Regions from separate parts of the Homo sapiens genome. Here region 2 is linked to region 1. Evidence: fine-mapped expression QTL. Tissue or cell type: whole blood. Region 1 holds a variant in brackets; the other region holds the start of a gene. All regions are shown on one strand. Distances are from middle to middle.

Region 1 (8,108 bases):
CATTGAATCTATAAATTGCTTTGGGCAGTACGGCCATTTTCACGATATTGATTCTTCCTATCGATGAGCATGGAATGTTTTTCCGTTTGTTTGTGTCCTCTCTGGCTGGCATCTGGCAGGTGCCCCTCTGGGACAAAGCTTCCAGAGGTAGGAACACGCAGCAATCTTTGTTGTTCCGCAGCCTCTGCTGGTGATACTCTGGCAAACAGGGTCTGGAGTGGACCTCCAGCAAACTCCAGCAGACCTGCAGCAGAGGGTTCTGCCTGTTAGAAGGAAAACTAAGAAAGGAATAGTATCATCATCAACATCAAAGACCAAAGGTAGATAAATCCACAAAAATGGGAAGAAACCAGTGCAAAAAGGCTGAAAAAAAAACGAGCACGCCTCTTCTCCTCCAAAGGATCACAACTCCTTACCAGCAAAGGAACGAAACTGGACAAAGAATGAGTTTGACAAATTGACAGAAGTAGGCTTCAGAAGATGGGTAATAACAAACTCCTCCAAGCTAAAAGAGCATGTTCTAACCCAATGCAAGGAAGCTAAGAACCTGGAAAAAAGGTTAGACGAATTGCTGACTAGAATAACCATCTTAGAGAAGAACATAAATGACCTGATGGAGCTGAAAAATACAGCATGAGAACTTCGTGAAGCATACACAAGTATCAATAGCCAAATCAATCAAGCAGAAGAAAGGATATCAGAGATTGAAGATCAACTCAATGAAATAAAGCGAGAAGACAAGATTAGAGAAAAAAGAGTGAAAAGAAATGAACAAAGCCTCCAAGAAATATGGGACTATGTGAAAAGACCAAATCTACATTTGGTTAGTGTACCTGAAAGTGATGGGGAGGATGGAAAAAGTTGGAAAACACTCTTCAGGATATTAGCAGGAGAACTTCCCCAACCTAGCAAGGCAGGCCAACATTCAAATTCAGGAAATACAGAGAACACTACAAAGATAATCCTCGAGAAGAGCAACCCCAAGACATATAATCGTCAGATTCACCAAGGTTGAAATGAAGGAAAAAATATTAAGGGCAGCCAGAGAGAAAGGTCGGGTTACCCACAAAGGGAAGCCCATCAGACTGACAGCAGATCTCTAGGCAGAAACCCTACAAGCCAGAATAGAGTGGGGGCCAATATTCAACATTCTTAAAGAAAAGAATTTTCATCACAGAATTTCATATCCAGGCAAACTAAGCTTCATAAGCGAAGGAGAAATAAAATACTTTACAGACAAGCAAATGCTGAGAGATTTTGTCACCACCAGGCCTGCCTTACAAGAGCTCCTGAAGGAAGCACTAAGCATGGAAAGGAACAACTGGTACCAACCACTGCAAAAACATAACAAATTGTAAAGACCATCTATGCTGTGAAGAAACTGCATCAACTAATGGGCTAAATAACCAGCTAGCATCATAATAACAAATTCACACATAACACTATTAACCTTAAATGTAAACGGGCTAAATGCCCCAATTAAAAGACACAGACTGGCAAATTGGATAAAGAGTCAAGACCCATCACTGTGCTGTATTCAGGAGACCCATCTCACATGCAAAGTTACACATAGGCTCAAAATAAAGGGTTGGAGGAAGATTTACCAAGCAAATGGAAAGCAAAAAAAAGTAGGGTTGCAATCCTAGTCTCTGATAAAACAGACTTTAAACCAACAAAAAAGATCAAAAGAGTCAAAGAAGGGTATTACATAATGGTAAAGAGATCAGTGCAACAACAAGAGCTAACTACCCTAAATATATATGCACCCAATACAGGAACACCCAGATTCATAAAGCAAGTCCTTAGAGACCTACAAAGAGACTTAGACTCCCACACAATAATAATGGGAGACTTTAACACCCCACTGTCAACATTAGACAGATCAACGAGACAGAAAGTTAACAAGGATATCCAGGAGTTGAACTCAGCCCTGCACCAAGTGGACCTAATAGACATCTGCAGAACTCTCCACCCCAAATCAACAGAATGTATATTCTTCTCAGCACCACATTGCACTTATTCCAAAATTGACCACATAATTGGAATACAACACTCCTCAGCAAATGCCAAAGAATGGAAATCATAACAAAGACTCTCAGACCACAGTGCAATCAAACTAGAACTCAGGATTAAGGAACTCACTCTAAACCACACAACTACATGGAAACTGAACAACCTGCTCCTGAATGACTACTGGGAAGATAACAAAATGAAGGCAGAAATAAAGATGTTCTTTGAAACCAATGAGAAAAATACACAACGTACCAAAACCTCTGGGATACATTTATAGCAGTGTGTAGAGGGAAATTTATAGCACTAAATGCCCACAAGATAAAGCAGGAAAGATCTAAAATTGACACCCTAACATCACAATTAAAAGAACTAGAGAAGCAAGAGCAAACAAATTCAAAAGCTAGCAGAGGACAAGAAATAACTAAGATCAGAGCAGAACTGAAGGAGATAGAGACACGAAAAACCTTTCAAAAAATCAATGAGTCTCCTGACCTCGTGATCCGCCGCCTTGGCCTCAGTGAAACCCCATCTCTACTAAAAATACAAAAAAATTAGCCGGGCATGGTGGCAGGCACCTGTAGTCCCAGCTACTCGGGAGCCTGAGGCAGGAGAATGGCGTGCACCCGGGAGGCAGAGCTTGCAGTGAGCCAGGATCGTGCAACTGCACTCCAACCTGGGCGACAGAGCAAGACTCTGTTTAAAAAAAAAAAAAAATCAATGAATCCAGGAGCTGGTTTTTTGAAAAGATCAACAAAATAAATAGACCACTAGCCAGACTCATAAAGAAGAAAGAGAGGAGAATCAAATAGACGCAATAAAAAATGATAAAAGGGATATCACCACCGATCCCACAGAAATACAAACTACCATCAGAGAATACTATAAACACCTCTGTGCAAATAAACTAGAAAATCTAGCAGTAATGGATAAATTCCTGGACACATACACCCTCCCAAGACTAAACCAGGAAGAAGTCGAATCCCTGAATAGACCAATAACAAGTTCTGAAATTGAGGCAATAATTAATAGCCTACCAACCAAAAAAAGTCCAGGACCAGATGGATTCACAGCCAGATTCAGCTAGAGGAGGAGCTGGTACCATTCCTTCTGAAACTATTTCAAACAATAGAAAAAGAGTGAATCCTCCCTAACTCATTTTATGAGGCCAGCATCATGGTCATACCAAAACCTGGCAGAGACACAACAACAAGAGAAAATTTTAGGCTGATATCCCTGATGAACATCGATGCAAAAATCCTCAATAAAATAATGGCAAACTGAATCCAACAAGCACATCAAAAAGCTTGTCCACCATGATCAAGTTGGCTTCATCCCTGGGATGCAAGGCTGGTTTCAACATATGCAAATCAATGAAAGTAATCCATCACGTAAACAGAACCAATGACAAAAACCACATGATTATCTCAATAGATACAGAAAAGGCCTTTGATGAAATTCAACAGCCCTTCATGCCAAAGACTCTGAATAAACTAGGGATTGATCAAACATATCTCAAAATAATAAGAGCTATTTATGACAAACCCACAGCCAATATCATACTGAATGGGCAAAAACTGGAAGGATTCCCTTTGAAAACTGGCACAAGACAAGGATGCCCTCTCTCACCACTCCTATTCAAACTAATATTGGAAGTTCTGGCCAGGGCAATCAGGCAAGAGAAAGAAATAAAGGGTATTCGGTTAGGAAAAGAGAAAGTCAAATTGCCTCTGTTTGCAGATGACATGGTTGTATGTTTAGAAAACCCCATCGTCTCAGCCCAAAATCTCCTTAAGCTGATAAGCAACTTCAGCAAAGTCTCAGGATACAAAATCAATGTGCAAAAATCACAAGCATTCCTATACACCAATAACAGACAAACAGAGAGCCAAATCATGAGTGAACTCCCATTCACAACTGCTACAAAGAGAATAAAATACCTAGGAATCCAACTTACAAGGGATGTGAAGGACCTCTTCAAGGAGAACTACAAACCACTGCTCTAGGAAATAAGAGAGGACACAAATGGAAAACAATTCCATGCTCATGGATAGGAGGAACCAATATCCTGTATGTGTTTTATACTTTTTTTTGAAAAAGCAAGTTATTAAAAGAAAAAGCTCACAATCATTGATGTCCAAGGCATATTTGCTGTTTATGGAATTTTTCTTTCCTAGCAGACAACTATCGAGTTTTGGGTTTATGTTAGGTGTCTTTACCTTTCATTGCTTACAGATAATATTGGAGCAAAAGTAATACGTAAATGGAAAGTTATTTTGCTCTGAGTTGTATTTGTGTTAACTTATTCTAGAGTTAATTTTTAAAAATTGTGTTTTTTCCAGAAACAGCATTTAAATTTAAAGCCCTAAAGAAGGTTGCGCAGTTAGCAGTTATAAATAGCCTGGAAAAGGTAAGTTACAACCTCTCTGGTATTAAAATTTTGTTTTTGATGTAAAATTTGCTGTTGTTAGCATCCTGAATCAAAAAGTTATGACTTGAGTGATAGTTTCACATTCATTTTCAGGAAGAATACATTGTAATATTATT[A/G]TGAAGGAAGTTAGAAGTTTGTGACATTTTATTTACTGTATTACAAAAAATCACTGTAAAGACATGTGGTTCTTTATTTATAGGCATTTTGGAACTGGGTAGAAAATTATCCAGATGAATTTACAAAACTGTACCAGATCCCACAGACTGATATGGCTGGTAAGGATACGATTGATTTTTTTTTTTTTTTTGTCTTTTAAATGCCTACTTGTGACATAAAAACCTATCATCGTTTTCCAAGTTATTTTTGTTATAAAGGTGCTTTTACATCTTCTATTGTCAACTGGTGTCAAATAGGAAATACTGTTTTTCTCTTACATTTCTAAATTAGGCCCAACCCTCTTCCTTTCCTTGGAGCAAACAAAGTAGTTTGAAATGAAGGTCAGATCTTTAGAGCTGTGATAGGATGGGGTGTTTGGCTCTTTGTTGTAGAGAAGCATGTGCTCTGAAGCTTTATTTTGTATTTAGGGAGATGTGTATAAAGTAGTAATATTCTCACCTATAATGTAAGACACAACTGCAAGGCAGAGAATACAGACTCCTGGAGAACTTTGGTAATTCTTTTTGGGAAGCTGTTCAGTCTTTGTTGCTTGGGTACATCACACTTTGCATAAGGCCCTTCACAGTGAGACTGAATACATGATCATCCATTCTAAAATGTGAGCTTTTCCAGGATAGATCAAGATAGCTCTTCTAACACATAGACAGTATTACATTGCTTGTCTACTTACCAGAATGCATTTGTGTAGTTGCTTAAATGAAGTTCCATGTTTATCTTTTAAAAATGTTGCCCTTGGGTTTTTACATAGTGTCAGCTTTTACTTTAATGCCAGGGATTTTGTTCCTATCTAATAATGTCATTTAATATATTTTTCATGCAGAATGTGCAGAAAAGCTATTTGACTTGGTGGATGGTTTTGCTGAAAGCACCAAACGTAAAGCAGCAGTTTGGCCACTACAAATCATTCTCCTTATCTTGTGTCCAGAAATAATCCAGGATATATCCAAAGACGTGGTTGATGAAAACAACATGAATAAGGTAAGGAGGGCAAAATTATTTCCATTATATCTAGATGTGAAGCAGTTTATTTTACTCAAGGTGTGTATTACTTTAGGCTTATTATTTAAGCAAAGTATTTCAGGGAACCATTTAAATGATCATTTTAGGTTTCTTTGTTTGATGGACTTAGAAGAGACATACTCATACATAATTTTATTTGGCAGAGGGAAAATAATACCAGGCAATGAACAAAGATTTAAAATAATCCCTTAGTTTCATTCTTTTGTCTGAGAAGACTAAACGATACCTCTGTTATTATTAAACGTAGTTTCTCTAATATTCACTACAAGGATTGCCCTACTTGAGTTCATCACTTTTATAGTGTGTTATTTGCATGTACTTAGGGTATGTGTCCATATAGTGCTACTGAAATTATCTAGTAACTCATTTTAAGTATTTTAGAACAGTTTTCAAAGAATTTTGCCAGGAAGGTAAGGCTCTCGCATATACCATCTATAGTGAAATTGGCACCATGACAACTGGTAATTCTAGGAGGCTCTTAAAATTTTTTTAAATATCACCTAGGTGATTGAAAAAAAAAAGAACTGAGTATTAATCCTAGGGTTTTACTGAAATTTCAATATGCAGTTTGTTTTGCAAATATTTTTTTTTTCATTTTTTGCTGCTTTTGGAGAAATACTCTTAGCTGGCTGAACATGAGATGGTTTCCTTCATGGTTTGCCTGTAGATGGAGATGTTCAGAATCAGCTGAATGATTTATTACTTTGTAGAAGTATTGGACCGGGAATTTATACATTAAAGGGTAAATAAATGAACCAGGTAATCCTTGAGAGTCTGTGATTGCGTGTTACTCCACTTAGGTGTATATCTCAACTTTTCCATTATGAGGACACCATTTTTCATGGTAGATTGTTTTGGAGCCCTTCAAAATAGTAGGTTTGATGATAAATACTGAGTGTCAACTTGATTGGATTGAAGGATACAAAGTATTGATCCTGGGTGTATCTGTGAAGTTGTTGCCAAAGGAGATTAACATTTGAGTCAGTGGGCTGGGAAAGGCAGACCCACCCTTAATCTGGGTGGTGCACCATCTAATCAGCTGCCAGCATGGCTGGAGTATAAGCAGGCAGAAAAATGTGAAAAGAGAGACGGGCCTAGCCTCCCAGCCTACATCTTTCTCCTGTGTTGGATGCTTCCTGCCCTCGAACATCAGACTCCAAGTTCTTTAGTTTTGGAACTTGGACTGGCTCTTCTTGCCTCTTAGCCTGCAGACGGCCTATTGTGGGACCTTGTGATCGTGCTAGTTAATAGTTAATATCCCCTTTATATAAATATTCTATTACTTCTGTCCCTCTAGAGAACCCTAATAGAGATTTTGGTACAAGGAGTGTGGTTCTAGAGGAACGGAGTATTAAGGATGGAGTTTCTTAGTTTGTTTGGGGGTTTCTGGAGTTTGCTGCTTAATATGATTAGACCCTAAAATATTAAGGACTCTACTTCTAATATTGTGGAGAACACTGATAGTCGTTGCTGTGAACTGTTTAGAGAGTTTGCAAAATAAATGCATTTGACACTCCTGATTCACCGCTAATGAGAGGCAAGGAGTTTAGTGACCCTATACATAATAATACCTTTGACCATATATGGAGAACCAAGGAACATAATGAAGCTGGTTGGTTGCTCCTAAATTCAGTGGACAAAGTGGTGAAAGAAAATGATGGGCCGGGCGCGGTGGCTCACGCCTGTAATCCCAGCACTTTGGGAGGCCGAGGCGGGCGGATCACGAGGTCAGGAGATCGAGACCATCCTGGCTAACACGGTGAAACCCTGTCTCTACTAAAAATACAAAAAATTAGCCGGGCGAGGTGGCGGGCGCCTGTAGTCCCAGCTACTCCGGAGGCTGAGGCAGGAGAATGGCGTGAACCCCAGGGGGCGGAGCCTGCAGTGAGCCGAGATTGCGCCACTGCACTCCAGCCTGGGCGACAGCGAGACTCCGTCTCAAAAAAAAAAAATAAAAAAAAAAAATAAAAAAATAAAATAGAAAATGATGAGCTCAGGGATTCTGTCTCCTGTCTTCAGAAGCAGATACTGAGCCTCAAATCTGCTAAGATTGACCTGAGTGAGACCCTTATCTCCTGTAGAAAAAGAGCTGAAATTGTGAAAAAACAAACACAAACTCTTATCATGCAAGTGGCTGACCTGCAACAAAAGGTGCATGTACAGCCTAACCAGGTGTCTACTGTTAAAGTGTGGGCATTGATTGGAAAAGAATGGGACCCTGCAACTTGGAAAGGGCATGTGTGGGAGGACCCTGATGAAGCTGGGGACTCTGAGTTTGTAAACTCTGATGAACCTTTTTTGCCAGAAGAAACAGCTTCCCCATCCCCAGTAGTGGCAACATCCCCTCCCTGAGCCATGCTGCCATCAGCCTTTCCACTTTTGTCTGAAGAGATAAACCCTGCGCTGCCTGAGGCAACAGGAATGGCCTCCCCTGAGGCAGTTGCCAGGCAAGATAATGTTGATTCTCCTC
Region 2 (8,097 bases), 120 kb after region 1:
AGGAAAAGACAGTTACCTCTAAGATACCTACTTTCAGGGCAGGCGTGGTGGCTCATGCCTGTAATCCTAGCACTTTGGGAGGCCAAAGCAGGCGAATCACCTGAGGTCAGGAGTTTGAGACCAGCCTGGCCAACATGATGAAGCCCCGTCTCTACTGAAAATACAAAAATTAGTCGAGCGTGGTGGCAGGCGCCTGTAATCCCAGCTACTTGGGAGGCTGAGGTGAGAGAATTGCTTGAACCTGGGAGGGGGAGATTGCAGTCAGCCGAGATCACGCCATTGCACTCCAGCCTGGGGGATAAGAGCGAGACTTCGTCTCAAAAAAAAAAAAAAAAAAAAAAAAAAAAAAAAAGAAACCTACTTTCTGTGAAAGTCGGTGTATATGTTTTTTTAAATAAGACACAAGTATGTGGTAGAGTAGGGATTATCTAAGCAATTAGTCCCTATCATGGATGGTGAAGGTACTAATCAGTGTTTGGGAGGGAGTGGAGATAGCTTCCGTATATAGAGAGGTAATGCATTTTAAAATCATTTAGGGGACTTTTTCAAATAATCCTGTTTCTTCATGGTGAGATTCCCTGACACAGTGAGCCAATCAGGTTTGCTAAGGCAGAAAATGTTCGAGAGCCACTGTACTAGACAGCATGAAAGATGACTGTTTTGTTGAAGCTTAATGGTAATTTTTCCATAATCCTGGTCCTTAAAAAGCAAAAAAAAGAACACATTAGAGTGTTGTTACTTTTCTCTCTCTCAATAGAAATGTTCCTAAACCAGCAAAGGAGGCTATCTGAATTTTTAAAAGTTTTTACGAAGGAACATAAAAATTCCTTTCTCTATCTTTTCCCACCTCTAGAAATGCTTGAAATGAGATTCTGCCTTACGTCTCACAAATTAAATACCACATTTGTGTCTCACCCATCTCAGTTATGCTGTCTTGCATTTTAATCAATCCTGTTTCAGGACTTCTTTTGCTGCCTTGTGGCTGTTTCTTATGTTTGTCACTAATTCATAAGTTGGCTAACTTTTATATTTGTAGAGAATTTCTCAGTGATTTTCTTCTAGTTGGAGTTCCAGTGTGGTTTGATTTGGAGTGTCAAGATCTCTGTCCCATGCCTAGCCTTAGTCCTCAGTCTGTTTTACTGGGTTCACCACCTGGTTGTAGTACCAAATGCCCTTTTCCCTTTCCCTCTCTCCTTCCTCACTTCCTCAGTACTGCCCAAGTTCGTCAGACCCAATGATTTTATTCTTAAGCTAATCTTATTTTTAATTTAGGTAATTCTGATTTCTGATTTGTAAAAGATAAATTTTCTTCTCCTTCATGTAGTAGGATTTTAATTTTGTAAATATTTAAATTCTCCATTAATGGTGTGTTAAATCTGCACTAAAACTGCTTCTTTACATGTTTTTAAATTTTTTCATTATGTTTTTAACACTTTTCTTACATGCAAAAAACACAACCGTTAAACTTTTCTTATTAAAATGCAAAGCCTAGTGTCTTCTAGCTTTTTGAAGAGCTTTTGTCCATTATATAATCTGTCAAGTAGCCAAGAGTTCCTCAGAAGCAGGACATCATTTAGATTTAAAACAATTATGGCTTGTCTGTAAAATAATGTTGTAGCATAACCATTCATGGGATGGCAGCTACGATTTTACTTCAGTAAAATATCCTTGGATACTACCGCCATTTTATTTACCTTAAAGATTTTACCAAGGTACCCTAGAACAAAAATGGTGAGGTCATTTTGATTCTGCTAAAGTTGGTATGACTGGAAAGCCAAATGACACAGTTATGAGCATAGACCTTTTATTTTCCAGATGTTTGACAGTGTAAACATACATAAAATACATATTAAAGTTTAGATGCTTTATATTTTGTGCAATAAATTGAAGCCTTAAAACATTTCATTTTTTTTATAAAAGAAACTCATTAGTTTACTTAATTAAGACAGTAAAATAGCAGCAAGTACCAAGACATTGTGCATTTCTTTTATTTAAGACAAGTTACTTCATTTACATCAGAGTTAGAAATGTTAAGACTGGCTTTCTTGAATACTTAAATATAGCTCGAATCACTGGTTAGATATGGACATATTTTCCCAACTGTACATCAGGGAGGAGTGCTTTCATTAGTTTCAGAAAATGCAGACCCTCAGACAGCCAGCATGACCACAACATTGAGCAATAAGAGAAATGAAGCATTTACTTTCCAAGCATTTGCCACAGAAGGTAATGGAGTCTTTACATTTGTGGTTGTCTCTTCCCTCCATAAGTTAAGGGTTGTGCTTTGTTGAGGCATTTCAGAGAAATTATTTGGCATGCCACTAGTGATACTTAGGGTCATGGGTGTTGGGGATGATTTTGTTGAGCTAGTGAGGCTTGTGTTTGTGACCATTCCATCTTGGAGATGAATAGTTAGAGTTGCAGCTGCTGCTTCATGTGAATTGATAGTCTCTGTGGATGTATCTTCTGGATAGGGCACAAAAGCCTTATCAGTGCTAGTAAAGGTGGTGTCTTTGCTTAGAGTGGCACCAAACGTTGTTTCCTTTGTTCGATATTGTTTGGGTATTTTGGTCACTTTGGGTTGAGTTACCACACTCAGAGAGTTAATGGTGTCCACTGTCTGCATCCCACTTACAGTGAATAAGCTTGAGGTAAATCCAGAAGGTGTGGGATACATGTTATGTTCCTTTAAAGATGATATTTGGGTAGAACATGGAGTCCCTATCACATGGGCTTTTGTTTCCATCATCCACTTCAGTAAGTAAGTAATGTTTTGTTTGTGGTCACATGACCACCTGTTATTGTAAAGGGTTATCTCTTGCAACTGAAAGAGTTGGTCAAAAGATTGGTCTGGAATGAATGTGAACTTATTGTTGTGCAGGTAAAGATGTGTGAGATTTGTCAGGTTTATTAATGTACCTGGAAGAATTTGTGTCAAAGAATTATTAGACAGGTCCACGATATGTAGTTTGGAGGGCATGTTGGTTGGAACTGTCCAAAGTTTGTTACTACTGAGGTTGAGAACCTCGAGACTTCTTAGTGTATTTTTAATGAGGACAACCTTTTCCAGCATGTTCTTAGAAACATCCAGATATTTAAGATTCCACTGATAAGCAGTATCAGATTTGTCAAGAAGTTTAATGTTGTTGTTAGCAGCAGACATGTTCCACAGAGACCGAGGTAAGTGAGCAGGCAGGCTTTCAAGCCTGTTGTTTGAAATGTCCAGGGTCCTCAGATTGGTATATTGGGTTAACTGGTTATGCAGATCAGTAAAGTGGTTATAAGACAGGTTTAAATGTATAATATTCTCTTGCAGTCCAGATGGTAATGTAGACAAGTTTCTGCCTGAACAGTCCACATGCCTGTGCCTCTCTGTGCATATACATTGGAGAGGACAAATGCATAAAATACCAGGTGTGAGAAACAGAAGGATGAACAGGCAGAGAGACATTTTCAATATCTGATATTCCATCAAAGCCTAGAAACAAACAGATACACCCTTCTTTTAATATGCAAATACAGTTTAGGCATCTGCATGGGTCAGTTAGCATTAGGCAAAATTTTCAATAAACCTCGTTGTTGTCGAGTCCTTTTATAATTGTTCCAGTGATTAAACTAACAAAGCTCCCCTTCATTTATAGTCCAAATGCTTAATCCTTCAATTGGGCTATGTGGTAGAGAGAGACTCTCTCCCTACTCTCTCCTGCATTTTCTCCTTTATTTTCTCTCTCCCTCCCCCCTTTTCTAACCATATTCTTTCTTATTTATCTTTCTAGAGCCTTAATATGATAAAATAGCATTCTTTGCAAATAAATAGTTGCAGTTGTAGGCTATTACTATTTTTGATGATATGCTTTCTTACTCAGATGAGAAAAAATGGCTGTCGTGTCTTTTTTTTTTAATCTCTGCAGTAATGTAATTCAATGTGTGTATATAGGGTAGATTTTATTTAGATATTAAAGCAGTTCTTCGAAATTTTATCTGTATGTTTTTAGGATAAATATATCTTTGTAAAAAGCACTTGAAAAATCCAGACCAACACAGTACCTATAAACCTCACATTTTATAAAGTGATTTTTTTCTGTATATTTCAGTGCCCATTTTAAAGGAAAACAATATGTATATTTACAGAGTGACTGAATGTATAAAAAATATCCCTCAACTGACACTGCAGCAAATTTCTGGTGCATGCACTTGCTATTGAATATATATTTAATCCTAACGTTGACTTTTTCTTAAAAGAAAAAGGAAAAAGATTCCAAAGTCAGCCTTTTACTGATTTAAATAACATCTTACCGTGGTGTCGTCTTCAACATCAGCATCTCATTTTCTCTGGGAAACTTAAAGGTCGTCTTGTTCTGTAGAGTCGGAACTGTTTCTGGCTGTGGGCTGTGCTTGCCTGCTCAGCTGCATTGTGTTGCTGTGAGCTGAAGCTCTGCAACCACCTGATCAGTACCACATAGGAGGACTGCAGAGCTGTCGCTGGTGCTGACTCAAATTTATGGCAAGAGGTGCACACGCAACAAAATGGACAATTTTTTAAAAAATTTGTGGCATCAAGCGTACCTATATATCTGATTTGCTATAGGATGGGATACCTTATGCATGAGAGTTGGCCCTTACTCCTTTCTATGTATTTGTCTGAGATTGGGTTCCATATTTTAACATTTGCCTCATTAAGAATCTGTGAATTTTTAAAATACCTCTACTCTTTATCCTTTTTACATGTTGAAAATAAATTTGACCTTCCTCATGGATAGTTTTCTATGATATTAGTCCCACTATTTTTTAACTCCTGCCTTTTTATATTCCTTTCTAAAATTGTATAATTTTCATGTCACTTTTTTAATATTATAAAAAATCTGTTTTATGACTTTTATGTCTTCCCCCAACATGGTGATTATTATGTTTAATCAGCTTTTCAAATTTATCAACCACTTAAGTGTTCCGTCTTCCCTTTTAGGATGTATAGAAGTACTGAAATACGATTATTTTTTCTTTATCTTTCTGATACAATGATCATTTGACCAAGGCTACACACAAGCCAGGATACATTTGGAAATTAGCATCTTATACTTCAGATTATCAGTTCCTATGTAAAATAAACATGTTTTATTTTATATATTTGGAGTTAAAGTTTTTTTTCTTTATGCAACCTTGGGTGGTAAGTGGATATGAGTATTGTTTTTTCCAAAGACATTTTTGGTGCTGTATGAATGACCATTTATTTGATTTTATGTTTTAAGAATAGCAGTATCAATTTAGGTGATTTCAGAGTGTTGCACATTTCATCTTTCTGGGAAAGTAGTTTATAGTTTTAAAATTACATGAAATGATATAAAAGGAAAATTTTTCATCATGAGTTTTATAAAGTGAGATCAGATTTATGATAAATTTTGCTCCACTCTTCAGTGGACTGCTTGTGTAAATCTGTTAAAACACAAATCTGATTTCCAGAATGGCAAGTTTAAAGAAAGCAAATAAAGTTACGGTATTTTCGTTACCAAGTGGCACCATTTAAAAACGAGTAATATTTAGCATGTTATGTGTAAGGAAAGTCTCTTTATGCCTTGTTACTAAATCGTTTGTTTTTCTCTAAATTATATTAGCATTATTTAGATTATACCACAAATAGAATTTGTTGTATTAAAATTTGAAGTTTATTTTCTTACAAGAGAAACTATACTCTAGGAGCCACCTTTTGTATAAAACTAATGTTCCTCGAAAAGTATCTGCATTTTAAGAGTCCGCAACATAGAAGTTTATTGTTGATTGGGTGCTTTATTGCCACTTTACTTTGAGGGTTCAGTTGAACTCTCAATTGGATTCTTACTGTGGATTTAGGAAACCAGCCATCAATCATAGTGCTTAAAATAATGTGTTAAAAATACTACATTCAGCAATATTGTGGAAATAGGGAATGCATTGACATTTAGAGTTCTATTTAAGCTCATATATACACTGCTGCACTTCTAAAGATGTGACTGAGGGTCAATTTACCGACCACTTAAATCTCTTAATTTTAGGAAACCTCATTAAGTCAGTGTAGAAGTAGAGTTATGCATTTTCATTACACTTAACAGTACTTTTGTTTGAAAGAAAAGACATGTTACTTCATTAATGGATTCAAATGAATTTGGGTTTAGGCTGTATCAAGTTTAGTTTCTGTTGTATATAATAGAAAATTCCAGTGCAATAGTAGTGGCAATGTTTCTCATTTCAAGTTTGGGACATACCAAATTGCTTCATATTATTCAAAGATTATTGTAAAATTCTCAAAAAGAAAAAGGGAGATCATTTCAATATATTTGAATTCTAACAATCTCTTACACTGGGTGCAGCACACCAGCATGGCACATGTATACATATGTAACTAACCTGCACGTTGTGCACATGTACCCTAAAACTTAAAGTATAATAAAAATAAATAAATAAATAAAAGAAATTCTCATGAAATAAAATAATACTGTATTACTGTTACTCAAAAAAAATATTTTTTAGAGGCATAAGTATGTGTTACAACTTATTTTAAATATTATTCAGACTCATTACATTTTCTATTAGGCTGTCTAGGTCAGTAATGATAGTTAGGCAACTTTTACATTCTAGATTAAGCAGTAAATTAATTTACGTATTCTTTTGTGTCCTAGGATATATTACCCCAACATTGTGAAAGGTATCACAAAGCATCTGCCAAGGAATAGCTATCCCACGCTAATCAGTGGTTTCAGTTTTCCATTATTATAGGTAACATTTGCTATGCTTGAGAGTCAGATATTGTTTATTTTTGGTAATATGGTTGGCTATTTAGACTGATTTTCCTGCTGAATACAACTGAGAGTACTCAATAAAGTACTTTAAAAGCATGAAAGAAATAACAACATAGAAATTACCAAGTCAAAATCCAAATGAATCAGTTTCTTTGCCCACCTCCCTACTCCTTTTTTTCTTTATGCCACTGGCTTGTTGCCAAAACTCAGTCAATTATTTCCTAAAATGTCTCTCATCTTGGAGTTTTCTCTTTGACTCTTTGGGAAGATTTAATTTGTTCTTCTGTCCCCCATATTTTCTATAAGTGATTCCTCATATCATTGACATAATTGCTCATTTGCATCATCTCACAATAATTTCAAAATAATACCAGTATTGATTGCTACAATTAGATTATAGACTACCGAATAAAGTTTAAAATTTGTTTGTAGCTCTGCTTGCTTTATTTTACTAAAAGTGTATAGTAAATTCTGTGTTCTAATGCAATGTGAAATAATTCTTTTCTGTGTATTTTTATATCACCAACTTGATATAAACTTTGTTTCAGTTTTCAGCTTTTCAGGATCACAAGTCAAAATTATATATATAACAATGTATATTCAGATAAATCTTGCTTCTCTGTCTTTTCCATCCTATTTCCTTCCTTCTGCTATTAGTAACTGTTTTTATTAGTTTTTCGTTGTATCATTAACATTTCTTTTTGAAAACCTAAAAAAAATGTAAGCATATGTATGGTATGTTCTTATCCCCCCTTCTAATATAAAAGGTGACATATATACATACTGTTAGATAACTTGTTCTTCTTTTCTTACTGTATCTTGAGTATCACTCCATATCAGTATATAGGTATCTGTATGATTCACTGTTTGATCCATAGTACTCCATTTGGGAATGTACCATGGCTTATTCAACCAGTCCCCTATTGGTGGACATCTGGGTTTTTCAGACTTTTGCTGTTACGAATAATGCCACAGTGAATACCCTTGTACCTAAATAATTTTATATGTTTGCCAGTAAATCTTTGAAAAAGATTCCTAGAAGTAGGATTGCTGGGTAAAAGGGTAAATGCATTTGGAATTTTTCCAGACATTACTAAATTCCTCTCCATTGATTATACCATTTTGCAGTCCCACCAACAGTGTATCATGGTGTCGAGTTCTATACAGCCTCACTGTATACTTTGTTGTTGAACTTTGGGATTTATTGTCCATCTGATAGGCAAGTATCTCCATCTAATTTTAAATGCATCTCTGTAATTATGAGGGGGAGTATATGTCTTTACATATGTTTAAAGACCATTTAAATGTTTTCTCCTGTAACTGTCTT

Evidence for each region. PIP is the estimated chance that this variant, and not a neighbour inherited with it, causes the effect.
Region 2: OMG starts here. The variant in region 1 is fine-mapped to the expression of OMG in whole blood (TOPMed, PIP above 0.99).

What each region holds. Positions count from the first base shown.
Region 1 is chr17:31,177,070-31,185,177 of GRCh38, forward strand. It overlaps NF1 (neurofibromin 1), which reads left to right. Exons shown (of 58, transcript NM_001042492.3): 6 at 4,353-4,420; 7 at 4,641-4,716; 8 at 5,439-5,596. Among named protein-coding and RNA genes, the nearest start is that of MIR4733HG, 86 kb to the left of the region's middle. The variant A/G (reference allele first, on the strand shown) is at 4,558.
Region 2 is chr17:31,292,860-31,300,956 of GRCh38, forward strand. OMG (oligodendrocyte myelin glycoprotein) reads right to left here and starts at 4,380. Exons shown (of 2, transcript NM_002544.5): 1 at 4,297-4,380; 2 at 1,788-3,478. The coding sequence starts at 3,472. The coding sequence ends at 2,150. All of the region lies in intron 36 of NF1 (neurofibromin 1), which reads left to right.